Linked DNA regions of Homo sapiens. The protein of the gene in region 2 interacts with the protein of the main gene of each other region in a biochemical or structural test. Each region holds a gene or a part of one and is shown on either strand. Other genes may lie near its edges.

Evidence for each region.
Region 1: the proteins of SMAD2 (region 2) and RHOA form a complex in vitro, tested with the Homo sapiens proteins (one study listed by BioGRID).
Region 3: of the proteins of SMAD2 (region 2) and CAMK2G, one has a biochemical effect on the other in vitro, tested with the Homo sapiens proteins (one study listed by BioGRID).
Region 4: the proteins of SMAD2 (region 2) and LEF1 form a complex in vitro, tested with the Homo sapiens proteins (one study listed by BioGRID).
Region 5: the proteins of SMAD2 (region 2) and MEF2C form a complex in vitro, tested with the Homo sapiens proteins (one study listed by BioGRID).
Region 6: the proteins of SMAD2 (region 2) and ELAC2 form a complex in vitro, tested with the Homo sapiens proteins (one study listed by BioGRID).
Region 7: the proteins of SMAD2 (region 2) and INSR form a complex in vitro, tested with the Homo sapiens proteins (one study listed by BioGRID).

What each region holds. Positions count from the first base shown.
Region 1 is NC_000003.12:49,370,027-49,374,270, forward strand, and holds part of RHOA (transforming protein RhoA isoform 1 precursor), read right to left. Parts: intron 1-4,244. UniProt on the Homo sapiens protein: Small GTPase which cycles between an active GTP-bound and an inactive GDP-bound state.
Region 2 is NC_000018.10:47,808,323-47,812,566, reverse strand, and holds the end of SMAD2 (mothers against decapentaplegic homolog 2), read left to right. Parts: 3' UTR 1-3,610; downstream 3,611-4,244. UniProt on the Homo sapiens protein: Receptor-regulated SMAD (R-SMAD) that is an intracellular signal transducer and transcriptional modulator activated by TGF-beta (transforming growth factor) and activin type 1 receptor kinases.
Region 3 is NC_000010.11:73,818,829-73,823,072, reverse strand, and holds part of CAMK2G (calcium/calmodulin-dependent protein kinase type II subunit gamma), read left to right. Parts: intron 1-1,342; coding exon 1,343-1,391; intron 1,392-3,427; coding exon 3,428-3,541; intron 3,542-4,177; exon of another isoform or gene 4,178-4,244.
Region 4 is NC_000004.12:108,078,027-108,082,270, reverse strand, and holds part of LEF1 (lymphoid enhancer-binding factor 1), read left to right. Parts: intron 1-601; coding exon 602-685; intron 686-2,656; coding exon 2,657-2,779; intron 2,780-3,888; coding exon 3,889-4,051; intron 4,052-4,244. UniProt on the Homo sapiens protein: Transcription factor that binds DNA in a sequence-specific manner. Participates in the Wnt signaling pathway. Activates transcription of target genes in the presence of CTNNB1 and EP300.
Region 5 is NC_000005.10:88,716,392-88,719,703, forward strand, and holds the end of MEF2C (myocyte-specific enhancer factor 2C), read right to left. Parts: 3' UTR 726-3,312; downstream 1-725. UniProt on the Homo sapiens protein: Transcription activator which binds specifically to the MEF2 element present in the regulatory regions of many muscle-specific genes. Controls cardiac morphogenesis and myogenesis, and is also involved in vascular development.
Region 6 is NC_000017.11:13,007,829-13,012,072, forward strand, and holds part of ELAC2 (zinc phosphodiesterase ELAC protein 2), read right to left. Parts: intron 3,955-4,244; coding exon 3,835-3,954; intron 2,844-3,834; coding exon 2,785-2,843; intron 1-2,784. UniProt on the Homo sapiens protein: Zinc phosphodiesterase, which displays mitochondrial tRNA 3'-processing endonuclease activity. Involved in tRNA maturation, by removing a 3'-trailer from precursor tRNA.
Region 7 is NC_000019.10:7,116,250-7,120,493, reverse strand, and holds part of INSR (insulin receptor isoform Long preproprotein), read left to right. Parts: intron 1-910; coding exon 911-1,045; intron 1,046-3,083; coding exon 3,084-3,438; 3' UTR 3,439-4,244. UniProt on the Homo sapiens protein: Receptor tyrosine kinase which mediates the pleiotropic actions of insulin.

The DNA.
Region 1 (4,244 bases), on a different chromosome or scaffold from region 2:
GAGCTGAGATTGCACCACTGCACTCCAGCCTGGCCAACAAGAGCGAAACTCCATTTAAAAAAAAAAAAAAATTAGCTGACTGTGGTGGTGCACGCCTGTAGTCCCAGCTACTTGGGAGACTGAGGTGGGAGGACTGCTTGAGCCCGGGAGGCGGAGGTTGCAGTAAGCAGAGATTGTGCCACTGCACTGCAGCCTAGGCAGTGAGACCTTGACTCAATTAGGAAAAAAACAAAAAAACAAAACAGATACTAGAACTGAACCAAGTGGCATAATTCAAAATGTCAAGTCAAAAATAACTCTGTAGCTTATAAAAGTGTTTAATTATAAATAACATTCTACTAGGAAAGAAAGCAGACAGGAGGGAAGAAATCAAATTTTAAATAACATCCTACCAGGCATACAGGCGAGAGAGGAAGATACAAGACTAAGTAAATTTTCTGCTATAATGTGGAAACCATGGAAACAAATCTGTATTTTGAGTTGGTAGGTAGGAAAAGACACCATGCTGGCTGTTAGGCAAGGCCTGAGATGACAGGAAAGCCCTTTTGGCTGTGCCTTTACTACTCAAGAAATGTCTGAAATAATGCATCACGTAAGGTGAGAGAGTACTCCTTTCACATCCGGGTACATCCTCACCCTCCTGTGGTAGAAGGGTAAACTGATGCCTGGGCTCTGAATACAAGTCCCATTCAACACTGCCCAGCACTGCACCCAGCTCTGCTACCCCATTCTTATCACCAGACTCCATGTTAAACATCCTCTGTACAGAGGCCCTTTGAGGCCCAAGAGGTCTCCCTCCAATACTTGGAACACATCTTTCTTCTCTTAGCACCTTCACAGCCCAAATTTCAGTTTCTAAATGATTTCTTCCTTAAAATTGATGGCTCTTCCACCCCCGAACTTTTGCCCCAGGATGCATCACAAATAACCTCCACAAGGCCCACTGTACTTCTGTCATGCAAACCATCATTCTGGCATGTGTAACTAAGATATACTGATGCCCAATTATCACAATCTGTCTGCCCTCACAATAATGGAGCTCATTTACTCCCTGGCAAATCCCACTCTCCCGGCCCCCTCCACCCCACGGTGTTTAGTCATATATCCAGCCTCTATTGGCGCTTGATAAAATGCTTCCAAGATGTTGAGTCTGTCTCATATCAAAAGGGGCCTTTTCATTGTGAGCAGGCCTACTCTTGGTACCATGATCACCTACAATCTTGTATGGTTCCCTAGGCTGTACTATTGCCTACTGTTTTTTTTTTTTTTTGAGACAGAGTTTCGCCCTTGTCGCCCAGGCTTGAGTGCAGTGGCGCAGTCTCAGTTCACTGCAACCTCTGCCTCCCAGGTTCAAGTGATTCTCCTGCCTCAGCCTCCCAAGTAGCTGGGATTACAAGTGCCTGCCACCACGCCCAGCTAATTTTTTGTATTTTTAGTAGAGATTGGGTTTTGCCATGTTGGGCAGGCTGGTCTCAAACTCCTGACCTCTGGTGATCCTCCTGCCTCAGCCTCCCAAAGTGCTGGATTACAGGTGTGAGCTACGACGTCTGGCCTTATACTATTGCATACTGTTAAATGAATATTCCTACACAGTACCCTCTCCCATCTTGGGGACTCTTGAGTTGCTCTGAGGCAGGCAGGTAGCCTGTAATATGCTCTTCAATCAAACACTTTTATTCCAGGGGACTCTCCTCAAGTGAGAACCTCCCCCTATCTTGCGAGGGTCAGTGATGTCCAAGGTTTGCAGCACAAGAAAAATACTCACAGACCATGCCTCAAGGTTTTAAGTCAAGGTCTCTAAATTTCTTATGGGCAAGATTCTGGTTGTTCCAAGATGCCCAGGCAGAAATAATGTTTCCAAGAGAACCAAAGAGCTGCTTCCAAAACATACATACTGCCACAGATGGAAAAGACCCTTCCAGTTCATGCTTACAGACATGCAGCAATTAACAGCCACTCTCTGGAGAAAATGTTAGGATACAACCAGTAATATACATTCACTACTAGGCTTTTGAGAAATAAGCTATGAAAATGCCAACCTGACATTGCTTCCCCAAGCCAATGGATCTTTCTATGTATGGTGCATCAATCTAAGTTAGGTAAGAGGGCTATAACTTGACACCAATCCTGAAGATGTCATCACATTTCTACCTAGTTTGTCACAACTGGGCCCTGTGTCCATATAAAACCAGTTTTCCTATCAGGACCACAAAAACACCTATGTCCAAGCATCCATGCTTGGCTGAGGCTGAATTAACACCCTCTGTATTGGTTTGCCACCTTCAGGGTACATCCCAAAATTCTGTTAGGCTGGTATTTGTTGTATTTTTTCCATCTATACTTGGGCCAGAAAGTATCTTAGAGTTCCTATTAGCATAAGAGCAATCATCGTGGCTCACTCTGTATTTGAATAAAAAAGAGCACAAACTATAGGACGGGCGCAGTGGCTCACGCCTGTAATCCCAGCACTTTGGGAGGCAGGCAGATCACGAGGTCAGGAGATCCAGACCATCCTGGCTAACACGGTGAAACCCTGTCTCTACTAAAAATACAAAAAACTAGCCAGGCGTGGTGGCGGGCGCCTGTAGTCCCGGCTACTCCGGAGGATGAGGCAGGAGAATGGCGTGAACCCAGGAGGCAGAGGTTGCAGTTAGCAGAGATCACGCCACTGCACTCCAGCCTGGGCGACAGAGCGAGACTCTGTCTCAAAAAAAAAAAAAAAAAAAAGGACTACAAACTATGAAAGAGGGTTTTGAACATGGCAGTATTCATCTCTTAGAAAGCGCTTTGGTGCTGCCAAACATTTTCCGTTACTTCACAGAACCTTGATGTCACCTATAAAAACCGTTTTACAAATGAGGAAGGCTCAAAGGTCAGGAGCTTACTGATGGTCAAACAACTATCAGGAAGCCCTACAATGAGGGACCCTGGAGTTCTGAGCAGCTGATCTAACCCACATTCCTCACACAGTGCCACAAAAGGAGGCTAGGTGGCCCTAGGACAGAAAGAAATAAGTAATGTGGACAAGTAGAAGTGGCCAGGCACGGTGGCTCATGCATGTAATCCCAGCACTTTGGGAGGCCAAGGCGGGCGGATCACCTGACGTCAAAAGTTCGAGACCAGCCTGGCCAACATGGCGAAACCTCGTCTCTACTAAAAATACAAAGATTAGCTGGGCTTGGTGGCAGGCACCTGTAATCCCAGCTCCTCGGGAGGCTGAGATAGGAGAATTGCTTGAACTCAGGAGGCGGAGGTTGTTGTAAACCAAGATCATGCCATTGCACTCCAACCTGGGTGATAGAGGGAGACTCTGTCTCTAGACAAACAAACAAAAACAAAGTAAGAAAGGAGAAAGGGGATGAATGGAAGCTAATATATCAAGTGTTAGCAGCATATGAGACATATAACTGAATGCTCAAGAAAAATGAGAATGTTGGAGAAGAGCACCTCATTCTAGTTTTAGGGGTTTTTTCCTTTCAGCTGACCCACTTCAAAAGATGTATAGGAGAGCTGGGCACGCTGGCTTGCGCCTGTAAGCCCAGCCACTTGGGGCTGAGATGGAAGAACTTGAGCCCAGTTGTTTGAAACCAGCTGGACCAACACAAGACCTCATCTCTAAAAACATAAATTACCCAGGTGTGGTGGCACATACCTACAGTGCCAGCTATTTGGGAGGCTGAGGTGGAAGGATCACTTGAGCCCAAGAGTTCAAGGCTGCATGATCATGTCACAGCACTGCAGGCCTGGGAGACAAAGTACAATCCCTGTCTCTTTATTTAAGAGAAAAAAAAAAAAGTATGAGAGGCCAAGCAAAGCATTACTTAGACAACAAAAGGAAGCAGAAGATTAAAAAAAAAAACAAAAACAAACCAAAACCAAAATTAAAACCCAAAAAAACCCTCCAATTTCACAAGAGCTTTGTTCCAGTCTTGCCAGAGGGCTTTTAGGACAGAAATGGGGAAGCACTGTTCTCACCATCAATGACAATAAAATAAAACAACTGTGGCAGGCTATTTTATGTTAAAGTAAAAAAAAATCTTTTGGCCGGGCACAGTGGCTCATGCCTGTAATCCCAGCACTTTGGGAGGCCGAGACGGGCAGATCACAAGATCAGGAGATCGAGACCATCCTGGCTAACACGGTGAAACCCCGTCTCTACTAAAAATACAAAAAATTAGCCAGTCTGGTGGTGGACACCTGTAGTCCCAGCTACTTGGGAGGATGAGGCAGGAGAACAGCGTGAA
Region 2 (4,244 bases):
CACAGGATCTGATGGTTTTATAAATGGTAGTTTTTCCTGTACTTTCACACACTCACACTCTCTTCTGCCACCTTGTGAAGAAGGTGCCTGCTTCCCCTTCTGCCATAATTGTAAGTTTCCTGAGGCCTCCCCAGCTGTATTAGTCTGATCTCACGCGGCTAATAAAGAGATACCGGAGACTGGGTAATTTATAAAAGAGGTTTAATTGACTCACAGTTTTACATGGCTGGGGAGGCCTCACAATTATGGCAGAAGGTGAAGGGGGAGCAAGACACATCTTACATGGCATCAGGCGAGAGAGCTTGTGTAGGGGAACTCCCCTTTATAAAACCATCAGATCTCGTGAGACTTATTCACTATTACAAGAGCAGCACGGGAAAGACCCACCCCCATGATTCAGTTACCTCTCACTGGGTCCCTCACATAATATGGGGAATTATGGGAGCTCCAATTCAAGATGAGATTTGGGTGGGGACACAGCCAAACTATATCACCAGCCATGTGGAACTGTTGAGTCAATTAAACCTCTTTCCTTTATAAATTACCCAGTCTCAGGTATTTCTTTATAGCAGTGTGAGAACAGACTAATACAAGCACCTTGAGGTCAGAGGCTAAAATCACTTTTTCCCAAACATTTCCTTTTTATATATGCTACATCTTTGTGTCTGCTTCAACATTTCCAGCAGTGCTTTATATATGGTAGGCATGCAATAAATGCTTCTTGATCGACTGACAGGTGCTCAGAAGATCTAGGTTGGTTGATTCTCTTGTGATGCCATCTTTTCCTGAGAGCTCATTAATTTTTAAGTTGTTTTCCTTGAAATGCATGGTATGTTTCCTCCACCCTGCTCTTTGCCTTTCATAGGGTTCCATTTTGATCAGCTGCTCTCATTGTCTGTTTTGTGATCAAAGGTTCTGATGAACTTTGGAATATGTGTATGTTTGGAGTGAGGATGGGGTCTGGAGGAGATGCATGGTTGAGGACCAATTCACCCAACCCAGCTTACAGAAGTAAAGCGGCCCCTTAGGAGCACTGAAGCATTGCTGTGGATTTCAGAATTACCTTATTTCTTTTTCTTTTTTTTTTTTTTTTTTTTGAGACGAGGTCTCGCTCTGTCGCCCAGGCTGGAGTGCAGTGGCACAATCTCAGCTCACTGCAAGCTCCGCCTCCTGGGTTCACACCATTCTCCTCCCTCAGCCTCCCCAGCAGCTGGGACTATAGGTGCACGCCGCCACGCCTGGCTAATTTTTGTATTTTTAGTGGAGACAGGGTTTCACCGTGTTAGCCAGGATGGTCTCAATCTCCTGACCTTGTGATCCACCCGCCTCAGCCTCCCAAAGTGCTGGGATTACAGGCGTGAGCCACCGTGCCCAGCCAGCTTCTTTCAAATCAGAGTAGGCCTTCCAGTGTGGCAGGCCATAAGATCTGAAGTTTTCACCCTGTTCCTGGAAGCCAAGTGGACAGCAACTAATTTTTACTTTCTTTATTGCACATTTGGGGCTTGGGGGATAGAGTCAGATGTGTGTCAGTTGAAACTGTAGCTACTGCATTCCACTCCTTGGGGGATCGTAGTGCTCATGCCAACAGAAAACTTCGAGGCTAATAATTACTGTCTTCAGAGTACAAGACAGGCACGGAAGTTGTTTTGGCATAAGAAAACCACGATTTGCATCCCACAGTCTAAGGAAGACGATGCTGAATTCAGAAGATGGTGCAAAAGTGTGACAGTTCAGCTGTGGCGGCTGTTGCTGATGCATGGGACTATTTTATTTACATTTCCTTTCTTCTTTTTTAACAGAGACAGGATCTTGCTGTGTTGCCCAGCCTGGTCTTAAACTCCTGGGCCCAAGTGATCCTCCCACCTCAGCCTCCCAACGTGTTGGGATTACAGGCATGAGCCACCATGCCTGGGCTTTATTTATATTTCCAAGTCAAATGTTAGTTGGTCAATCAGTCTTTTTAAGCACCAATTTTGTGCCTAGCCTTGTGGAAACTGTAGGAAAAAGATACTTTTTATTTGGGAGGACCTTGATTTGCTGTCACAGGTGCCACTAATGCCAATTATAAGGCAGTGTGGAATCAGGTGATTGAAAGCCCAGTCTGTAGCATAAACTGCTGCAGGGTTCCAGTGGGGGCAATTAAGGTGGGCAGGGAGGGTGGATAGCATTTGACTTTGACAGCATAACCTGAGCAGAGGCACAGTGGGGATGGTGAGTGTGCAGTGGGAGGAGGGAGAGAGGTAAGTGGTAGGGAAGAGGTGGGAAGGGGGCAAGGAGAAGGCTCAGGAGGTTTGGGGACAGGGAAATGACTTGGTTGGCGACCTCTTACTTTCTTCTCGTGTGTGCAATTTGGAATTCACTTGGTTCTTAGTATTTCTGGGTCAGATGACTTCTTTGCAGTATGAGAAACCATTTCCCAGGCTGGCTACCTGGGCTGTGGTATCTTCCAGTGCTCCTCTGTGATTGTACTCAGATCAGCTCGTCTAGGCAGGCAGGATGGCAGAAGCCCTCTGACTTCATGTCTGAAAGAGTATGTGTTTCAACTCTGTAATTACAGCATTTAACAGACGATATCAGCCCTCTTTGGGATGGCTTTTGGCAAATGGGCTAGAAGTCTATTGTGCATTTAAATGATACTGCATCTTCTCTTTAAAAGGTTTCTCAGTGAGTCCACCCCACTCTGTATCCAAGTATGTCTCAGGCCATGAGGCAAAAGGAAATGAGTAGTTCTTTTTGGTTGGAGAATTAAAAAGAAATCTCCACCCAAGTAACAGGTACATAGTGGGAAAAAATAACATCTGCCTGAAAGCTTCATCTTCAGGCAAAGAGAGGGTCAGGGGGCGGGAGCTTAGTAATGGGGAAACCTCAGAAGATTTAAAGAGAATTACAGACAGACAAGGCTGAACATTGGCTGTCATCCAACAAAGCTCTTATAAGATGGGAATCACTGCCCGGTTCTTGAGCTCCGACCTGGAGGGAAGAGGAGTCTGGAAGACTTGGCACAGGCCTGAGTGCTTCATTGTCTTTCTGGTTCCAAGTCCTCCTCAGCTCACTAGGAAGGAGGTGGGGTGGGGGCAGGTAGGCCACTCTGCATAAGTGCACACATCTACACTGGCTAGTCTACTTCACAATTCCCCCACAGGTTATCCTTATCTCTACCTGGTTCCAGTTCCAGATTGGAGGGATATAGAATACCATCCCCACCCCTCACCTTGCTTGCTCTGGCCTGGAAAACTGTCATTCCTTTACCACCAGCTGGCATCTGCCATATGCTTCAAGGAACTGAATAAAGAGGAAGGGGAAAGAAGAAACTAGAGAAACTGGAATGCTTCCTATCTGACCCCCAAGTACAGGGACTGCCTCTTTCCGTAACGGCACAGAACGTCTCCATCCCTTTGACCTCCACCTCCCCAGAGATGCCCGAGGAGGACAGCCTTGTTTCTGTGATCTGTTGTTGAGAACTGCTGCTGAGAATTCTTCCTTCAGCACCGCCTTAGGCACCATTGGTTTTTCACTAGGTCCGCTGTAGAAAACAGCCAGGAATTACTTAGTTGACTACCACCTGAGGTGCTGTTTGGTGTTGGTAATAAAGAATAAAGGTGGAAATGAAGCAACGAGACTGCTTTTCTTTGTGGTTCATAAATTAATTCTGATAACAGTTTTTAAAAGAGAAGTCAAATATTTTGAGCAGAGCCAAGCTCACTGACATACCTAGGTGGTCTTAGATGTAGCCAATGCGCCAGGTACCACAGGACGCCTAAATTTGTATCAGTGTATACCATCACTAGTTATGAATAAGAATGCCTTCTTGCCACATATCCTCATTAACTCAGTGTATTATCAAACTTATTTAACTCTTTCAGGCCAGGCATTGTGGCCCATGCCTGTAATCCTAGCACTTTGGGAGGCCAAGGCTGGTGGATTTCTTGGGCCCAGGTGTTTGAGACCTGCCAGGGCAACACAGGAGTTTGAGATCAGTCTGAGCAACATGGTGAAACCCCACCTCTACAAAAAATACAAAAATTAGCTAGGCATGGTGGCGTGTACCTGTGGTCCCAGCTACTCAGGAGGCTAGATGGAAGGATCACTTGAGCCTGAAAGACAGAGGTTGCAGTGAGCTGAGATCACACCACTGCACTCCAGCCTGGGGGGAAAAATATTTCAGTCTGAGAGGTGAAAAATGGTAAGAGAATTTGATCTTTTCAAAAGGTAATCATGTTTCTCCCATGCTCAAGACCTTCACT
Region 3 (4,244 bases), on a different chromosome or scaffold from region 2:
CTGGCCAACATGGCAAAACCCCATCTCTACTAAAGATACAGAAATTACCTGGGGATGGTGGCACATGCCTGTAATCCCAGCTACCTGGGAGGCTGAGGCAGGAGAATCGCTTGAACCTGGGAGGCGGAGGTTGCAGTGAGCTGAAATCGTGCCACTGCACTTCAGCCTGGGCGACAGAGCAAGACTCCATCTAAAAAATGAAAAACAGAAAAACCTCACCAAACTAGACAGAGAGAACAGGGCCTTGAATTAAGTAGTCAGGAGAGGGCTTCTTTCAGGAGGTGATATCTGAGCTAGAAACTGAATGGTGGGTGGGAAGGAGGCAGCCAGGCCAGCTCTGAGGCTGAGTGCCCTAAGCAGAAGGAACTGAAGCTCAGATGTGGCCTTTGTAATCAAGCAGAGGGAAGAGCAAAGTGAGACGGGGAGAACCATAGGAGAGTGATGAGGTTGGAGAAGCAGCAGGGCCTGCTACAGAGGCCCTTGTAGGAGTTTGCATTTTCTTCCAGCAGCAAGGAGAAGCTATTGGGAGTTCTTAGCAGGAGTAACAGAATCTAGTTGACACTTTAAAACACCACTCTGGCCTCATGATCAAGAACTCTAGGGAGGCCCGGGCGTGGTGGCTCACGCCCGTAATCCCTGCACTTTGGAAGGCCGAGGCGAGTGGATCAGCAAAGGTCAGGAGCTCGAGACCAGCCTGGCCAACATGATGAAACCCCATCTCTAATAAAAATACAAAAATTAGCCAGGCATGGTGGCAGGCACCTGTAATCCCAGCTACTCAGGAGGCTGAGACAGGAGAATCACTTGAACCCGGGAGGCAGAGGTTGCAGTGAGCCGAGATCATGCCATTGCACTCCAGCCTGTGCAACAAGAGCAAAACTCTGTTTCAAAAAAGAAAAACTCTAGGGAGGAGGTAAGTGTGGAAGTTAGGGAGACCATGAAGCTGTTATCATGGTTCAGGTGTGAGATGCTGGTGGCCTGGAGTCAGGTTGTAGCTGTGCATTGGAAGTGAAGAGGTAAGACATGGGGTTTACTTTGGAGGCAGAACCAGAAGATTTTATTTTAGATTGGGCGATCTGAATATAAGGGAAAAAGAGAAAGAGAAGGATTGAGGATGACTCCAGGTTTTAGCCTGAGTAACTGGGTAGATGGTGGCATTTACCAACTGGGGGAAGACTAGGGAGGGGATTTGGGAAGAGTCAGACAGCCAGGGTGGAAGCAGAACCTTCCACAATTCCTCCTTGCACCTCTTGTAGGAGCAGAAACTCTGCTTTTGTTCTGCTTTGCTCCTCTGGCTTCCAAGGGATGGAGCATATAGAAACATGTTCTTTTTGGCCTACAGGGCTCCACAGAGAGCTGCAACACCACCACAGAAGATGAGGACCTCAAAGGTAGGTGCTGGCCCTTGGAGGGGGAAGGACTCCAGCAGTGACCCAGGTACCTGGGCTCCAATGGGGCACCTGCCTTTTCTGTCCCCAGAACTGGGAATGCTGGCTCCTATGCCCCTAGGAGAGGGCTTGGTATAAAAGCTACTTTCCACGAGCCAAGATATGAGGCCCCTGTCTGGTGTTGCTGAGTTGGGCAAGAGGCTTCTCTTCTTTGACCCCAAGTCTAAAATAGCTAAGCTAGAGATTCTCCAGGGGCCAGGGCTCAGAGAACTGTTCCTGTTGCTGATAATGATGTGCCATCCAAGAACAGGGGTACCCCAAGTCCCTGCCGAAGTAGCCTGTAAGTGCTATGAGTCATAAATAGAGTGACCAATCACTCCTGGTTTTCCTCGGACACAGAACTTTTGGTTTTAAGACTGTGATGGGCCAGGAGTGCTGGCTCACACCTGTAATACCCAGAACTTTGGGAGGGCCAGGGCAGAAGGATTGCTTGAGACCAGGAGTTTGAGACAAGCTTGGGCAACATAGCAAGACCTTGTCTCTATTAAAAAAAAAAAATTAGGAACAAATAAATAGGCCAGGTGCGGTGACTCACACCTGTAATCCCCACACTTTGGGAGGCCGAGGCAAGTGGATCACTTGAGGTCAGGAGTTCAAAACCAGCCTGGCCAACATGATGAAACCCCGTCTCTACTAAAAATACAAAAAAAGGCCGGGCGTAGTGGCTCACGCCTGTAATCCCAACACTTTGGGAGGCCAAGGTGGGTGGATCACCTGAAGGTCAGAAGTTCAAGACCAGCCTGGCCAACATGGTGAAACTCCATCTCTACTAAAAATATAAAAAATTAGCCAGGTGTGGTGGCAGGTGCCTGTAATCGTAGCTACTCGGGAGGCGGAGGTGGGAGAATCGCTTGAACCTGGGAGGTGGAGGTTGCAGTGAGCCGAGATCACCCCATTGCACTCCAGCCTGGGCAACAAGAGCGAAACTTCTTCTCAAAAAAAAAAAAAAAAAAAAAAAAAATTAGCCGGGTGTGGTGGCGGGGTCCTGTAATCCCAGCTACTCGGGAGACTGAGGCATGAAAATGGCTTGAACCCGGGAGGTGGAGGTTGCAGTGAGCTGAGATTGCACCACTGCACTCCAGCCTGGGTGACAGAGCGAGACTCTGTCTCAAGAAAAAAAAAAAAAAAAAAATATATATATATATATATATATATATATAAATATAAAACCCAGATAGTCCTGGGAACACTGGGATGAGTTGGTCACTCTAGTCCTAAGATTTTGGCCTGAATGATGGAGTTGGAACTAATCTGACAACCGTGAGGCCACATTTGGTCATGTCCTGGTGGGCCCGTAAGGACCACTAGCCTAAGCTTGGGCCTGGCTAGAGTGCCAGGGCGGTGGGAGGGCATGGCAGGCTGGACCCCCGGGAATCTCTGTCCTGCTCTTTGATTGGGCCTCCTGGAATTGCTCCCTTTGCCTGAATTCAGTAAGTGACCTTGGGCCAGGACATCAGAAAAGACAGAGGAACACTCTAGGACAGAGCTGGGAGAGCATGCCCTGGGTGGCAAGGGGGCACCAAACCTTTTGGAACCAAAAAAAATAGCAGAAAGCTGCGAGGAAGTGAATCATAGTAGCTCCAGGCCCCTGTGAGTGAGGTCAGATCAGTTTTGATTCCGGCACTGCTGGCAACATAGGAGGCGCTGTCACTGCTGGGCTCTGGACCCTGTGGCCTGGCCCCCTGGAACATCTTCCCCGGGATCAGGGGTCCTTGGACAGGCTGTTGTAAGGCTCGTCTGGAAGCCACAGCCCAGGTCTGGGCACCTGCCTGGTGCCCTCAGCTGGGAGGCCTCTCTGGCAGAGGCGGCGGCGTGGGATGTCGTCCAGTGTCCACAGCAGCCTGAGGCGAGGCGTCCCCTTGCCCCGGCTCTGCAGCGCCATGGGCTCGGGGCCTGTCTGGCTTGCTCGCTCACCTGCCTTGTTCTGTTTGTTTTGGCTGCTCTGCCTTGCCCTGCCCTGCCCTGCCCTGGCTGGCTAGCTGCCCCGCTCCGCACTGGGAATGGCAGCTCGGTGCCTGAAGGACGGAGCTCCCGGGACAGAACAGCCCCCTCTGCAGGCATGCAGCCCCAGCCTTCTCTCTGCTCCTCAGCCAGTAAGTGTGAGGGAGGCACATTCTGGCTTCCGTCTCCCTGGCTCGTCCTGAAGCCCCTCAGGGACCCCCACCACAGCTGTCAGTCCCACCCACCTGCCCGTGGTAGTAAGCTCTGGGAGCATGGCCTCTGCTGGGGGTGGGGGGTAGACTGGAGGTGCTGTTGAGACCAGGCAGGGGCCCCTGAGTCTGGGGCCCAAAGAAATATGAGAAGTGTGGGTGGAAAAACATGGCCTGGGATGAGGGGAGTAGAAAGCCCCCAGGATGTGCAGTGGGCCTTGCCTCAGCGCTGAGCCAGGAAGAAGGGCAGAGTCGGAAGTCAGGTCTGTGGGGGTGGGAGTGGGATGATGGGGAAATCGTGACAGCGAGGAACTGTGTTGGGGATGTAGTGCTTCCTGAGTCTCAGCATAACAGTATTAAGAGCATGGGGTCAGAGGCAAGATAGATCTGAGTTTAAATCCCAGCTACACTGCCTTCAAGAGTGTGAAGTTTAACCTCCCAGAGCTGCAGGTTCCTTATCTGTAATGTGGAAATAAAATGGCACGCACCTCAGAGCCTTGTTAGATAAAAGACAAGGCAGTAGGAAGTCTTGATACGGTGCCTCGATGGGTTATCAGTAGCTCATCCTCATATTTCTAGTTACGTCTGTGCTGGAGGATGCCTTTGTCTGCTGCTTTTCCTCCCACCATCTATCCTTGCAGAGTTT
Region 4 (4,244 bases), on a different chromosome or scaffold from region 2:
AGTCTGTGTAAATGAAAAATGAGAGATGTAGAGAGAACAGAGGGAAAAAATGGACTTCTCAGGGTGGAGAGAAAATAATTCCAGTGAATTAATCTTTTATTTCTTGACTTTAACATGTATATGGGGGAAATGGTACAGTGTTTTTAAAATGTTTATTTTTATATGAATATACAGTTTTATTTTCTTCTTTCTTCCCTTGCCTGAAATTCTCAAAGATTCTGATAAAGAAGTCACTCAGCTCCTTCTCTGAAGGGAATATTTCACTATTCTCAGGGTTATGTTATATTCAATAAACATTTAAGTGCTTACTTTGTTCAAAGCATTAATGGGGTTGGGAGAGGGGATGGGATAAAAGAGATGTAATTCATGGATGGTTTGTTTCAAAGTTGAGGGTGGGAGATTTCTTTCAAGGCAAATGACACTTTGATTGGGTGGAGGGTAAGGAAGGGGAACGGTTACGTTTCTGAAACAATCCCGGGGTCTGTAATACTTCCACAAGATTCTGTTTGAATATCTCCCTCTTCTCCCCTCATCCAACTCTTACTACTGGTTGGTAACTGGTGTTTTGTCATTGATGGGTTCCTTTCTTCTGTGACCTCAGGCAAGGTCAGCCTGTATATCCCATCACGGGTGGATTCAGGCAACCCTACCCATCCTCACTGTCAGTCGACACTTCCATGTCCAGGTAGGTGGAGGTGGAAACTGGGGCGCTCGAGGACAAGTTGCTCTTCTCGTGCTTGCATCCTGTGCGCCTCTGCTTGCCTTTTGGTTGGCTAGGAGGGTGCATACCTCAGCCATGTGTCTGTCTGTGCAGTGTGCCTGGCTCCCACACTAGGTGTCAGAGAGAGTCCCGGGTAGGAGCTCTGCGCTGTGCCCCGGCCGGACCAGCCACACCATCGGGCGATGGACTCAGCCTCCTTGGAAAGCGTTGCCTCCAAACAAATTCATGGCCGCCTGACTGTGGGATGGGAACTGTCCGGAAAGCGGACATTACAAGAAGAGTTTGTTTGATTCAAAATATGCCGGGGGTGGGGTAAGGGAGGAGGATAAAACTGGTTTGGTCTCAGCTCTATAATTTGCTTCCTTTGTGGAAAGTTGTATCAGTTTGATGCGGCAGTGTTTGAAAATGCCCAGATAGTCTAGAGCCTTCCTGGATGGAGGCTGTCAGAAGAGACAGAACAGTGCGGACAGGCTGGCAGGCCATACAGGGTGTGCGTCCTAGTGTGTGAATCAGGCCCTGTGTGGACATGGTCATGCCAGCGGAGCTCGGGAGGCCTGCCGCGCCGCACCGAGAAGCTGCTGTGTGTGATGCTTTTGCTTCTGGAGAGGATGGCACTGTGCCCTGTGCTTGATGTACACACACATTTGGGGTGCATCATCTGTGTGTTCGATGTGGCTTTGTCAAGGGAGCTAGCATTATTGTGCCGGAAGTCAAACTGGTGGGTTATTAACTGGTTGTGAATATGTCTTTTTTATATGGGTATAGTATTCAAAGTTTCTGTGGTGAATTACAGCTTTAAAAAAACTTTTTTTTTCAGTGAGTTGTAAATGTAGCTGATTGTGGGAGGAGGTGGAATTAATATCCTTCCCCTTAAAACATATTTTTATACTTTTTAACATTGTAAGAACTATCTGATGATAGAACTCTCACAGGCAAATAACTATCATCATGTATTTTTGCAAGTAATACATTTAGCAAAGCATCATTATTTGGTCAAATATTTGTATTTTTACCATGCTTCCTTCATATTTTAAAATTTGTTTTTGAAAAATATATATCCTAGCAGAGTTCCTTTCAAGAAAAGGAAATTAATTGTGTAGGCTGTGATGAAAGACCTGAGAATGTTGTTCTTGCTGAATTAAATGTTTACTTTAAAAAGTTTGAAAAGCAAAAATTTCTAAAACATATCCAAATTTATCTAGAGAGCTTATTGAAAATACTGTCTTTATTTTATTTTTCTTGCCTGGCAGTTTCCCTCCTTTGTGTTGGCTGGTGGTGGATATTTTAAGATTTTTTTTAATGCTGTTCAAGCGTACTTGGGAAAAAGCCTTTGGCAAGTGTAGTTTTTAACCTTGATGCAGAACTTTATCCTTCCTTTAAATTCTTCTCCTTATTTCTGTTACCAGTTTTCCATAAGATGAGATCTCTGAAACATTAGTGTATTTCTGCACAGAAAATCATTTTGGATGATGTTAATGGAAACCTTATTAAATGGGAGACTGATTCCTATCCGTTTTCTCAGTTGTTCCCTCCTAATATGGATGAGGAAGCCAATAATATGAGAAAATTCCCATTGTGATGGTTTGCTTAGGAATATAGGCAGAGATTTTAAAACATGATGTGTTTTGCTTTCATTTAAAAATCATTTAAAAAGTCAAGTCTTAAATAAAGTGTTATATTTCCAATAATTACTTTTCGTGAAATTCCTATTTCAAAATTGCTTTGCAAGAAAAATGATTCACTTTTTTTTTTCCACCCGAATATAGAAAGAAAAAAATAATTATCGGCCCACTCTAATTTATAGTTAATGCTTCTGTGCGTAAAGATGTGTTTTTACTCTTAGCCAGTAGCAGTTAGTGGATTGCTTTGAAATTCCATCTAGCTTTTGCTGCAACAGCCAGTAGTACATTGTTTTCTTCTCTTTCCTCCTTTCAGGTTTTCCCATCATATGATTCCCGGTCCTCCTGGTCCCCACACAACTGGCATCCCTCATCCAGCTATTGTAACACCTCAGGTCAAACAGGAACATCCCCACACTGACAGTGACCTAATGCACGTGTAAGTATCCACCCGGGCTCTGCTGTGATTGCCTTAGGATACTGAGGATTTCTACACTGTTGCTCCTTTGCAACAGTGATCCTTCACCCCTTTGTGTTGCTGTGAAACTCAATGCACCTCTGCCTTGAAAACTCTGTCCCTGAGGACATTAAGCAGCTTCATTCCTACTGTGCTGATTTTGATTCTGAGGTTGCAAAGGAGCACGGACCCTAAAAGATCATGGGAACCTCACCAAAATGGAAGAATCTTCAGAACATAGGCATTCGAGACTCTTCAGCTGTTTAGCCATTTACCACTGAATTTTCATTTGGTTCAGATTATTGGGGAGAACCTGTTCCTACCTGAGTGAAGTAGATTGGAGGGTTTAATGCACTTTCTTCTGGAAGTGCAGTTACCCTGGCTCCAAGCTTCAACAGCACAGAATTCAAGGGAAAGGAACAAATAAAGCCCAGGATTCCCTGTTGGGCCAGGGTTGTCTCAGACTGTGAGTGCAGGCCTAAATTAATTTACTCTGAAGAGATGAGTAATTAGTTTCTTAATCTAGGTTTTGTGGATGGGAGGGTGGGGGTGAGAGGCAGCATGTGATGGTCCATAAAGCCCTTGCGAATGTATGCAAAGGCAACATGCATTTGTTTGGGGGAAAAGGTCTAAAGATTTATTAGCTTCTCAAAGTGCTCCTTAACCCCCTGCAAAAGTTAAGAACCTCTATTCTGAAAGAGGAATGATCACCTGTGCTGTGTGTTCAGCTTCTTCTGAGGGGACCAGAGAAGTCCTCAGCCTCAGAGCCCATCTGGAGCATCTTCACAATGCCAAGTCCATTTCTACTTGGTGTTCATAGTTCTATAATGACAGGTCCACTTTCTCAAACCAAAGGGTTTTATTCTCAGTCACTGAGTAGATAGGAAGCCCTATTGGATGGGTTGTTTGCCTCTCAGTGTTTTGTCAAATGAGTCAATAACTGCTCTTCCAAGTTGGTGGTGGTCTGGGGTGAGAGGGTTGTCGCCATCCTGAGTGTAGCCATGTGAGCAGGTGCTCTGCTTTTCTCCTCCCCCATCCCTTCCTCATTCCTTCAACCCCTTCCCCTAACCACCACCACCACCACCTTTTAGGAAGCCTCAGCATGAACAGAGAAAGGAGCAGGAGCCAAAAAGACCTCACATTAAGAAGCCTCTGAATGCTTTTATGTTATACATGAAAGAAATGAGAGCGAATGTCGTTGCTGAGTGTACTCTAAAAGAAAGTGCAGCTATCAACCAGATTCTTGGCAGAAGGGTAAGTAGCCGAGTCATGTGTAAATGTTCATGGTAGCCATGGAACTGCTTCATGAAAATCTGCCCCAATTTAATCCCATATCAGGTGGTCATAGAATGTGTTTGCACTTCAAGATATGATATGATGCATTTTAAAGAATTTTGATAACTGTTTTTACTGTTATTCTTTTTTTTTGAGACAGCGTCTCACTCTG
Region 5 (3,312 bases), on a different chromosome or scaffold from region 2:
ATCTCTATTTAATCCAGACTTTCAAACATAATTGAAAGAAAAAAAAAACACCCACACATCCAAATCAGGCCAGCATTAACTGAATCCTGAGTTTAAGTCCTTATTTACAACTTTCTCATATTCTAACTCAACATACTGAAAACTGAAGTGACTACCTTCCTCACAAAGCAGTGACCTCTCAATTTCCAGTTTGGACATTACTAGGATCCTAATCATTTAAGCCTAAAACTGTAAACTTTAACAATTCCTTATCTATCACCACTCCTACCATTAATCTAACCATTTACTGAATTCTGACAATTTTCTCTCTCCTAAATCTTTCAATTACTTGCTTAAACCTAACTCTTTTAAATTTGCGATTATATAATCAGAGGCAAACTAACTCTTCCAGTCTTGTCTCACTGCTCCCCTACACACGGCTACACTTTACGTAAATAGAAAGGCCCACAATTCCTGTAAGTTTGTCTCTTGCTTTCCCATCTCTGTACCTTTGTATCTACTATTTCTTCCCTGTGAAATGCCCACATCCAGGGATGGTGTCATGATTCCAGGGCCCAGTGCAGAATGAAAATGTGGAAGTCCTTGTTGAAAAAGTGAAATAAAAGGTTCTCTCTGTTAAAGGTACTAAAATATAAAACAGTTCACTTTTTCCTGTGTATCTCTTCTGTTCAGGCACATGCTCTATTGTCCTACAGGACTTTGCTTACAACATTCAAACTCAAATATAAAATTATTAAGGATAATTTTATTATCAGGATATTATCAGGATAATGATAGCAGAACACTAAACGAAACACAAGCTAGGGCCATATGTGACTGCAGGGGTCACATGCCCACAAACAGCTTTGAACTCATCCCCTTCTGGGCCTTTCTCAATCCTGCCCACCTTCAAAATCAAGTGAAAGGCTTCTGCTGGGTGGATGAGGAAGTGTCCATGCTCTGAGCCTCTGGTCTGCTCTGCCCCAGGATGGCCAAAGTGGCTCCCTCATAGCACTTTGTAGACTTCCCTGAGAATGCCTTTTATCTCCTATTAGTTTATAAGTTTCCTAAGAGAAAGGGCTACAACTTCATTCATCCTGGAATCACCACATGAGTTACATATAATAATTGCTTAATACATGTTTGCTGAAAATGAATACAAGAGAACAAAGCAGAAAGCACTGCTATTTTGAAGCCACATGCAACATTTCCTCGAACTGCATTCTTTTTGGAGCAGATATCACTACTAATGCAAAAGTCCAAGTTCTCCAGCTGGCTAACTGGTGGTGTCTTGTTTTCCTTTTCAGTTTTTAAATTAATCTTTCTATCAATCTTTTTAAGGACATTCCCCTTTAGAGATTATTATTGAATGTTAATAATGGATATATTTGATAGTCTCTAAAATGTATGAATTCACTAATTTATTCAGATTTATAAGCCTATGTTTTCAACTTTTAGAAATTACTTCGAAGAAGAAAAAAGGAACTCTTTTGGAAACACTTTCTACAGATTTTAGTTAAAAAATAACTTATGGTACTGCTTTTCACAGTGGCTTTTGAAAAATTCTGTACATTTAAACAGGTTATCAAAGATCTTCATGGAACTTCTTTGATAAAGAAGTTGAACCATTCAATAAGAACCTTAGACTTCCACCACTGGCTGAATTCTGTAATACCCTAAGAACCGTCATCCAATTCACACCCCTCCCACACAGACACACATATCCATCTTTTCATATAATATTTTGAGTTGAAAACTGAGAAAGCTCATTTGTGCTTGTGGCATAAGCTGCTTTTTAAAAAACACAATAAAATTGAATAAATTTAAACAGCAAAACATTAATTTAAAAAAATGCACCACGGACACTGCATCACTAAGAAAGCCAGTAACTTTACTGAATTGTCTGCAAAATACAAATTATACCTTATTTCCAGCAGGAGAAACTTTTGAAAATTTCCCACTTTTATTCACTACAGACAGCTGAATTAAGTCCCTTGAGATACACAGATGTGGTTTAACTTAGTTATAACATCTTGTCATCTAGTGGCGACAAAGTCCAGCTTATGCCGCTGTGAGCCTCTATTTGAATATTTGTTGCAAATGCTTGTATGCCCTCATTTACAAGCGATTTTAATTACTCTCATTTAATGGAAACAAGTCCCCAGGAAAAGAAAAAGAAGAAAAATGATACAGCAAACCATCTGAAGCAATCCAAGTCCTATGCCTACAGTGACCCAGGTCTACTTTGCTCGAAGAGAACACTGGTACTGCATTCAAACCACAACAGAATCCGTCACTTAACTGACCTCTCTGAATTAAACTGAGGTATGAATCAATTTGAGGTATGAACAGGGAAGGCAAAATGCAATACCAGATTATGAAAATAACCAAAATGGAAAAATTTGATGTAGAAGATATGTGGCTTGGATTGCTCCACATCTTTGGTTAAAACATATTAAGAAAAGCCTTTAATTACATCTGTAGTCTGAAGCATTCTAACAGACACCAGTATTCCAGCAATCTTCAAAAGATCTGTAGTGGCAGGAAATTAACGCCATAAAAGTGACGACATCACGGCAGATGGCACAAATGAGAACAGATGAAGTATGCCATGCTTAGGCAACAGCCTTTATTGAGGGTTCAAGTGGCTTCTTCTTCTTTAAAAAAAATGTTTTTTAAAGAAAGAACTACAAAGCGTTTACTCTCTGGAGAAACAAACAACAAAATAAAGAGGGCAAAAAATGCTATCTCTAAGTTAAAAGATGGGTATGTAAGAAAAACAAATCCATAAAAGTGTGTGAGGGCAGACATTCTTTTAAAAAGTGTCTTGGAATTTTGTTTTTTCATTCTCACTTTAGTTAACTTTTAAATGATCTGGGGATGACAGGTATTTTTATATTCATCATTACAAAATGCTAAATTCCACCTTTGGGAAAAAATAAGCCATTTTACTAAAAAACACAATTTTTAAAAAGGTTGAAATAAACAGCCTCCACGCAGCAATGCATACAATATACAGGTTGTGCAGCTTGCGTATATTGCATCACTGTTACCAGTATTCAAGCTTCATATTACCAAAAATCTTTTAAAATAGGATTAGATATAACAATACTCGCAGCCGTGTAAAATGCCACTTATGGATCTTTTACTTGCAATGAAGAATGTTGCCTAAAATGTTACTCTAGGACGGGTTATGTAAAATAATACTCCCTCAGGGCTCTGCCCTAAAGTCTGGAATACAAAGGATTTACTGTGATTAAAAACCATACTAGCTTTGCAAATACAATAAATGGTAAATTACAGATAAGGTATAAGGGTAAAGATAGACCAAGA
Region 6 (4,244 bases), on a different chromosome or scaffold from region 2:
GATTGCGCCACCGCACTCCAGCCTGGGCAACACAGAAAGACTCCGTCTCAAAAATAAATAAATAAATAAAATAAATAAAAGGTAATTGAAGGCTGGGCATGGTGGTTCACTCCTGTAACCCCAGCACTTTAGGAGGCTGAGGAAGGCAGATCACTTGAGGTCAGGAGTTCGAGACTAGCCTGGCCAACATGGCGAAACCCTGTGTCTACTAACAATACAAAAATTAGCCGGGCATGGTGGCAGGCACCTGTGATCCCAGCTACACGGGAGGCTGAGGCAAGGAATCACTTGAACCTGGAAGGCAGAGGTTGCAGTAAGTCGAGATGGCAACACTGCACTCCAGCCTGGGCAACAGAGCGAGACTCCATCTCAGAAAAACAAAACAAACAAAGAAACATAAAGGCTGGTCATGATGGCTCACGCCTGTAATCCCAGCACTTTGGGAGGCCAAGGCAGGCGGATCAGGAAATCAAGAGATCCAGACCATCCTGGCCAACATGGTGAAACCCCGTCTCTACTAAAAAAATACAAAAATTAGCTGGGCATGGTGGTGCGCTCCTGTAGTCCCAGCTACTCGGGAGGCTGAGGCAGGAGAACTGCTTGACCCTGGGAGGCAGAGGTTGCAGTGAGCCAAGATCGCACCACTGCACTCCAGCCTGGTGACAGAGCGAGACTCTGTCTCAAAAAAAGAAAAAAAAAGGTACTTGCCGACTTAAGGCAGGGAAACCCATCTCCCTGGGAGCTGAACTCAACCCATGGAGATATGTTCCTCTCTGAGGAATGCAGAGTATCTGGAAGACTGATGAGAGCCAGAACGCAGCCAATAACGCCCCAACAGTGCACCAGCTGCCCAAAGCCGAGGTCTTCCAACAGATGAGTTTTTCAGGTCCTCATGCCAAGAGACTCCTGGAACTTGACCTAGCTCAGCTTTATTGCTTTCCAAAACCTCACCTGAGAGCAGCAAATTAATTAGAAGAGGGGAAAGGCGTTATAGGCTAATCCAGTGACAGCAGCCCTCAGAAGGAGCCGCAGAAGACAGCAAGGAAGGAGATGGAAAAGCCAGGGCAGGCAGCTGGCAGCCCCCAGGAACGGCTGCCTGATAATAGGGCAACTGCCCGAGTGTGTAAAAGTGAGCTTGTCACTTTTCATCATGCTCACTGTTACCTATTCCGGAAAGCAGGAATACGATTTAAAGATTACCATAGAAAACAGTTTAAAAATCAGACAATATAAATATAGATTATCAAAAATAAAATATTTTTAAAACTTTAAAAAATGATTTTGCTATCTAAAACTCAGAAACATACAAGTAATAAGCCTGTTAACAGTAGTACTTAACTTTTATGAAAATCACATTATTCAAATAAATCGATAGAAATGATACTGGCAATGATCTTGCCACTAATATTAACTACTTACTTTCATTATTATTTTCACTTGTAGCTTTTAGAATTTAGATAACAATTCCAAATATATTTCAAAATCAACATTAAAAAATAATCTAAGCCCACAAAAAGGCAATGAAATCTTTTCACATATTTAGACAAATTTGTTGCAAATTGTATTGATAAAATTTTAATGCAAAATTCTATTAAAAATAAGCCACTAGTCAGATCTTACAAACAGCTTATTGTAACAAAAATTTTTAATGGAATTTGACCAATTTCAGAGTTACAGATCTAGGCCTTTGTGAATGCTAGCTAATATTCCAATTAATCTGGTGTTAGACCTTAGCTATTGCAGGGGAATGAAATAAAGTAAAACAGAGTTAAAAGACTTTGAATAAAGGCCTGATGGAGTTGAAGGAAAACAAACACAGCTGCCTTCAATAATTTCTGAATTCTAAAAGGACCAATCATTGGCAAATATAAAAGAATATGGACCAGGCACAGTGCTTCACGCCTGTAATCCCAGCATTTTGGGAGGCCAAGGTGGGTGGATCACCTGAGGTCAGGAGTGAAACCAGCCTGGCCAACATGGTGAAACCCCATCTCTACTAAAAATACAAAAATTAACTGGGTGTGGTGGCGCGCACCTATAATCCTAGCTACTTGGGAGGCTGAGGCAGGAGAATCACTTGAACCTGGGAGGTGGAGGCTGCAGTGAGCCGAGATTGTGCCACTGCACACTCCAGCCTAGGCGATGGAGACAGACATGGTCTCAAAAAAAAAAAAAAAAAATGTACGGAGGCTGACAGGGCACTGGAAAAAAATTTAAAAGGAAATAAAAGTATGGGGTTATTTTGAGAAACAGAGCATCTAAACTCTGAAACCTACAAGTGATGACAATTATGAAAGGTCAGTAGTAATACTTGTTGCAGGCTCATTGCCAGTGTCATTTCTATCGAATTTTTTTTTTCTTTGAGAGAGTCTTGCTCTGTCACCCAGGCTGGAGTGCAATGGTGCAATCTCAACTCACTGCAACCTCCGCCTCCTGTGTTCAAGCGATTCTCTTGCCTTGGCCTCTCAAGTAGCTGGGATTACAGGCATGCGCCACCACACCCAGCTAATTTTTGTATTTTTAGTACAGACAGGGTTTCACCACGTTGGTCAGGCTGTTCTCAAACTCCTGACCTCGTGATCCACCTGCCTTGGACTCCCAAAGTGCTGGGATTACAGGCGTGAGCCACTGCACCCGGCCTTCCATCAGCTTTTCTGAAGATCTGCTATCTCTTCTTGTCTCAGGTAACAGGAGTGCCTACCCTCAAATTAATGAAAAAGTGCAAACCAGAGGTCGCTGACCAAGACCCCAGTCATGTACAGCCCTCCGGAAAGTCTTCCTTACCTTACAGATGAAAGCTACGACCAGGGAAGAGTCCCTGACCCCTCTTCTCTGGCTAACACCTGAGGAAAAACACACTTGATTATCACAAGGTAAATGTGAAAGCTGTGAAGACATCACAGACTGATTATGACCCGATACCTAATTTCACTTCACATAAAAATTAATGGACGCTACTGTCCCAATACAAAGGCTGAAGACACTAATATACTCAAGAAGACTTTTTTTCCCTACTTATGTGGAGATGTGTTTGCGTAAATGAAAAACACAAAACTCTCACCAGAAAAACTTTAGAATGGCAAGTGAAATTTTTTTTAAATGACACATTTCACCTAGGACTGGAGAAGACAGAGAAAAATATATTGTAATGTGCTTTATAACACATATAATATATGAAATAACACAAAAGTTCAAAGGCCTGCAGAGAAAATGCTGGTGTCAGTCTTTACCCGGTGCCATCCAAACAAGGACAGCACATAGGGGTCAGCCTGTTCTCAGTCACTAGACAAGACCTCAGGACAGAAAGAGGAGCTGCCGAGCTTTGCCAACGCTGACCTTCTGTTAAGGACAACAAACTCCCGAAGCGGCCTGACTCCTGAGCTACATCTCATCTTGGACTTTTAACTCCGTTTCCCAGTGGGCTGTCATTCTGGAAGACGTGCAGAGCCTCTCACTGATTTGACTGTCTCATTGGCTTAGCAGTTATAGTTTCCACATTAATGGAAAATTTGCATAAATGTTACATTAATGAAAAATACAAAATGAATCCGTTTGTCAGGCCCTGTTCTCCTCTGGGAAAACAGAACACAGTTTTGGGCCTACCCAGACCCTGGGTGGCCAAAACTGTGGACTGGTCATTATTAAAGTTGCAGGCTGCCACCTTTACAACAACCCTTCTCATTCCCCCAACGGGCCAAGTTATAGTAAGCCCAGGAAGAAGGATCTGTTTACACACCTGGCTTTCTTACAATAATGACTCTCTACAAGCATTACAAGGCAGAGAATTAAGAAAACGCAAGCCTTTCTGCTGCTCTGTTTTGTTTATACTATTACCATGTGGAAGGTGTGGCTCATTTTCATTCGACTCGGAGTCTGAAGATCGCTCTGGACTGAGCCTGCTGAGAGGCCTTTCTGGACTCTGCCATGGTTGGTGCTTTCCCCTCCTCTGTTCACCTGGTCAGTACAGATACCACCAAATTACACACTGCACAAGGTGAGCTGACAGCCAAGGCCCAGACGTTCATACATGGGAATGCCAGAACGCCAATTAAATCAGCACACCTTTTACTATACAGTAGGAAATAACTAGTTAGTTAACTTCCTACCTGGTTTCTGGGCTGCACCTATGTCCTATTAATGTTTATGTTTCTGCTTAGCTCACAGCCTCGGCCACAGTACCAACTCAACAACGTGTTATCTAAACAGCATGTGGGTTGTAGACATGCTTATTTATTATCATCACT
Region 7 (4,244 bases), on a different chromosome or scaffold from region 2:
CTGTCTTAGGATCTTCCCACGGCTACTCTTATGTCCTGACTAATCCTGTAGGCATTGTGAACCCCGAAAATCTGAGACAGGTCTCAGTTAATTTAGGAAGTTTATTTTGCCAAGGTTGAGGACGTGTGCCCGTGGCACAGCCTCAGGTGGTCCTGAGGACAGGTGCCCAAGGTGGTCAGAGCACAGTTTGGTTTTATACATTTTAGGGAGACATGAGACATCAGTCAACATATATAAGATGAACATTGGTTCGGTCTGGAAAGACGAGACAACTCGAAGTGGGGAGGGAGCTTCCAGGTTGTAGGTAGATAAGAGACAAATGGTTGCATTCTTTTGAGTTTCTGATGCGCCTCTCCAAAGGAGCCAATCAGATATGCAGGTATCTCAGTGAGCAGAGTGGGGACTCTGAATAGAATGGGAAGCAGGTTTGTCCAAGCAGTTCCTAGCTGGACTTTTTCCTTGAGTTTAGTGATTTGGGAGCCCCAAATTGATTTTCCTTTCACAGCATTTATGAACTGCAGCATGAATTGTTTTATTAAGTGGCTAACCATGTTCTAGAAACCAAGAGATGTGTTTGTGTGTGTGTTTGTGTGTGTATGTGTGTGCATATGTGTGTTTGTGTGTGTTTGCATGTGTGTGCGTGTGTGTGTTTGGGTGTGTGTGTTTGTGTGTGTATATGTGTTTGTGTGTTTGCATATTTGTGTGTGCATGTGTGCGCATGCGTGTTTGTGTGTATTTGCATGTGTGTGCACGTGTATGTGCGTGTGTGTTTGCATGTGTGTGTTTGCATGTATGTGTTGGCATGTGTGTTTGCGTGTGTGTGTGCGTTTGCGTGTGTGTGTTTGCGCGCGCGCGTGTGTGTGTGTGTCTAAATGGCTTCTTTGTTACTACTATCAACTGTCATCGGCAGGTCCTTTGGCGTGGTCCTTTGGGAAATCACCAGCTTGGCAGAACAGCCTTACCAAGGCCTGTCTAATGAACAGGTGTTGAAATTTGTCATGGATGGAGGGTATCTGGATCAACCCGACAACTGTCCAGAGAGAGTGTAAGTGTAGAAAGGGTTTAAGGTGTGTGAGGTGTTCGTTGAAAGGGTATTGCCCTTTACACGTGTGCTTGGTTTTGCCTTTCCTATGTCTACACGCTCACCGTGTTTGCATGCTGTATGTTACAGGTGTGTTTGTGTTTGCATAGCTTGTCTTTACATGCATGCTTGCATTTGCATATTGCATTGTGGTACACACACTTGAGTTCCCATATGTGCTACATGTACGCTTACGTTTGCATATTATATATTTACATAGGTATTTATGTTTGCATATTATATGTTTCTGTGTGCATCAGCATATCATGGCACATGTACACCTCATTTACATATTATAAGCACACATGTTTACATATTATGTCTTTACCTGCCTGCTTGTGTTCACAAATCATATGATTTTCTTGCATATTGTATCTTTGGAAGGTTGCACAAAACACCTATAGCGGTAGTTATCTTGGGAGAAGGGAACTGGAGACCTGGGGTTGGGGGAGAGAGACCTGTTTGCCTGTTAATTTTTTTTTTTTTTTTTTTTTTTTTGAGACGGAATCTTGCTCTGTCACCCAGGCTGGAGTGCAGTGGTGCGAGCTCGGCTGACTTCAAGCTCCGCCTCCCGGGTTCACACCATTCTCTTGCCTCAGCCTCCCGAGTAGCTAGGACTACAGGCACCCACCACCGCGCCTGGCTAATTTTTTTTTTTTTTTGTATTTTTAGTAGAAATGGGGTTTCACCGTGGTCTCGATCTCCTGACCTCGTGATCCACCCACCTTGGCTTCCCAAAGTGCTGGGATTACAGCCGCCTGTTAATTCTTTATACACTTAAAATTTTGTCAGGTAGCTGGGCATGGGTGGCTCACGCCTGTAATCCCAAGCAATTTGGGAGACCGAGGTGAACGATCACCTAAGGTCAGGAGTTCAAGACCAGCCTGGCCAACATGGTGAAACCCCGCCTCTATTAAAAATATAAAAATTACCCAGGCGCGGTCGTGGGCGCCTGTAATCCCAGCTACTCAGGAGGCTGAGGCAGGAGAATTGCTTGAATCGGGGAGGCAGAGGTTGCAGTGAGCAGAGACTGCACCATTGCACTGCAGCATGGGTGACAGAGTGAGATTCTGTCTCAAAAACAAACACAGACACACAAAAATTTTGTCAGGCATACATATTATATATTCCCCCCTCCAAATATATATGCATATGTACATATATATATATTTAGATGAAGTCTCGCTGTGTCACCCAGGCTGGTAGAGCGCAGTGGCACAATCACAGCTCACTGCAACCTTGAACTCCTGGACTCAGCCTCCTGGCTCAACCTCCCAAAGTGCTGGGATTACTCTTGAGCCAGTTTTGAAATGAGGAATCCCTTTTCAAAACCATCTTTCAGGCTGGACAGGATGGCTCATGCCTGGAACCTCAGCACTTTGGGAGGTTGAGGCAGGAGGATGGCTTGAGCCCAGGAGTTCAAGGCTGCAATGAGCTATGATTGCGCCACTGCACTCCATCCTGGGTGACAAAGTGAGAAACCCTGTCTCAAAAAAAAAAAAAAGCGGCCAGGCATGGTGGCTAACACCTGTAATCCCAGCACCTTGGGAGGCCAAGGTGGGTGGATCATTTGAGCCTAGGAGTTTGAGGCCAGCCTGGGCAACATAGCAAAACCCTGTCTCTGCAAAAAATACAAAAATTAGCTAGGCATGGTGGTGCACACCTGTGGTCCCAGCTACTTGGGAGGCCAAGGTGAGAGGATTGCTCGAGCCTAGGAGGCAGAGGCTGCAGTGAGCTATGATCATGCCACTGCACTCCAGCCTGGGTGACAGAATGAGACGCTGTGTCCAAAATAAGAAGAAGAAAAGCAAAAAGAAAACACCATCTCTCAGCACCTCTAGCAATGCTATTTCTGCCTTGACAATTGTCCACACACACAGCCAGCATCTGATGTGAGCACATGTGGTCCGTGGGTGTCGGCTGCAGGGACAAGAGTGGGGGTTTGGGAGGATGCGTGGCAGGGCCCCCAGACTCACCCAGGACGTGTCCTTCTGCCCCGCAGCACTGACCTCATGCGCATGTGCTGGCAATTCAACCCCAAGATGAGGCCAACCTTCCTGGAGATTGTCAACCTGCTCAAGGACGACCTGCACCCCAGCTTTCCAGAGGTGTCGTTCTTCCACAGCGAGGAGAACAAGGCTCCCGAGAGTGAGGAGCTGGAGATGGAGTTTGAGGACATGGAGAATGTGCCCCTGGACCGTTCCTCGCACTGTCAGAGGGAGGAGGCGGGGGGCCGGGATGGAGGGTCCTCGCTGGGTTTCAAGCGGAGCTACGAGGAACACATCCCTTACACACACATGAACGGAGGCAAGAAAAACGGGCGGATTCTGACCTTGCCTCGGTCCAATCCTTCCTAACAGTGCCTACCGTGGCGGGGGCGGGCAGGGGTTCCCATTTTCGCTTTCCTCTGGTTTGAAAGCCTCTGGAAAACTCAGGATTCTCACGACTCTACCATGTCCAATGGAGTTCAGAGATCGTTCCTATACATTTCTGTTCATCTTAAGGTGGACTCGTTTGGTTACCAATTTAACTAGTCCTGCAGAGGATTTAACTGTGAACCTGGAGGGCAAGGGGTTTCCACAGTTGCTGCTCCTTTGGGGCAACGACGGTTTCAAACCAGGATTTTGTGTTTTTTCGTTCCCCCCACCCGCCCCCAGCAGATGGAAAGAAAGCACCTGTTTTTACAAATTCTTTTTTTTTTTTTTTTTTTTTGCTGGTGTCTGAGCTTCAGTATAAAAGACAAAACTTCCTGTTTGTGGAACAAAAGTTCGAAAGAAAAAACAAAACAAAAACACCCAGCCCTGTTCCAGGAGAATTTCAAGTTTTACAGGTTGAGCTTCAAGATGGTTTTTTTGGTTTTTTTTTTTTCTCTCATCCAGGCTGAAGGATTTTTTTTTTCTTTACAAAATGAGTTCCTCAAATTGACCAATAGCTGCTGCTTTCATATTTTGGATAAGGGTCTGTGGTCCCGGCGTGTGCTCACGTGTGTATGCACGTGTGTGTGTCCATTAGACACGGCTGATGTGTGTGCAAAGTATCCATGCGGAGTTGATGCTTTGGGAATTGGCTCATGAAGGTTCTTCTCAAGGGTGCGAGCTCATCCCCCTCTCTCCTTCCTTCTTATTGACTGGGAGACTGTGCTCTCGACAGATTCTTCTTGTGT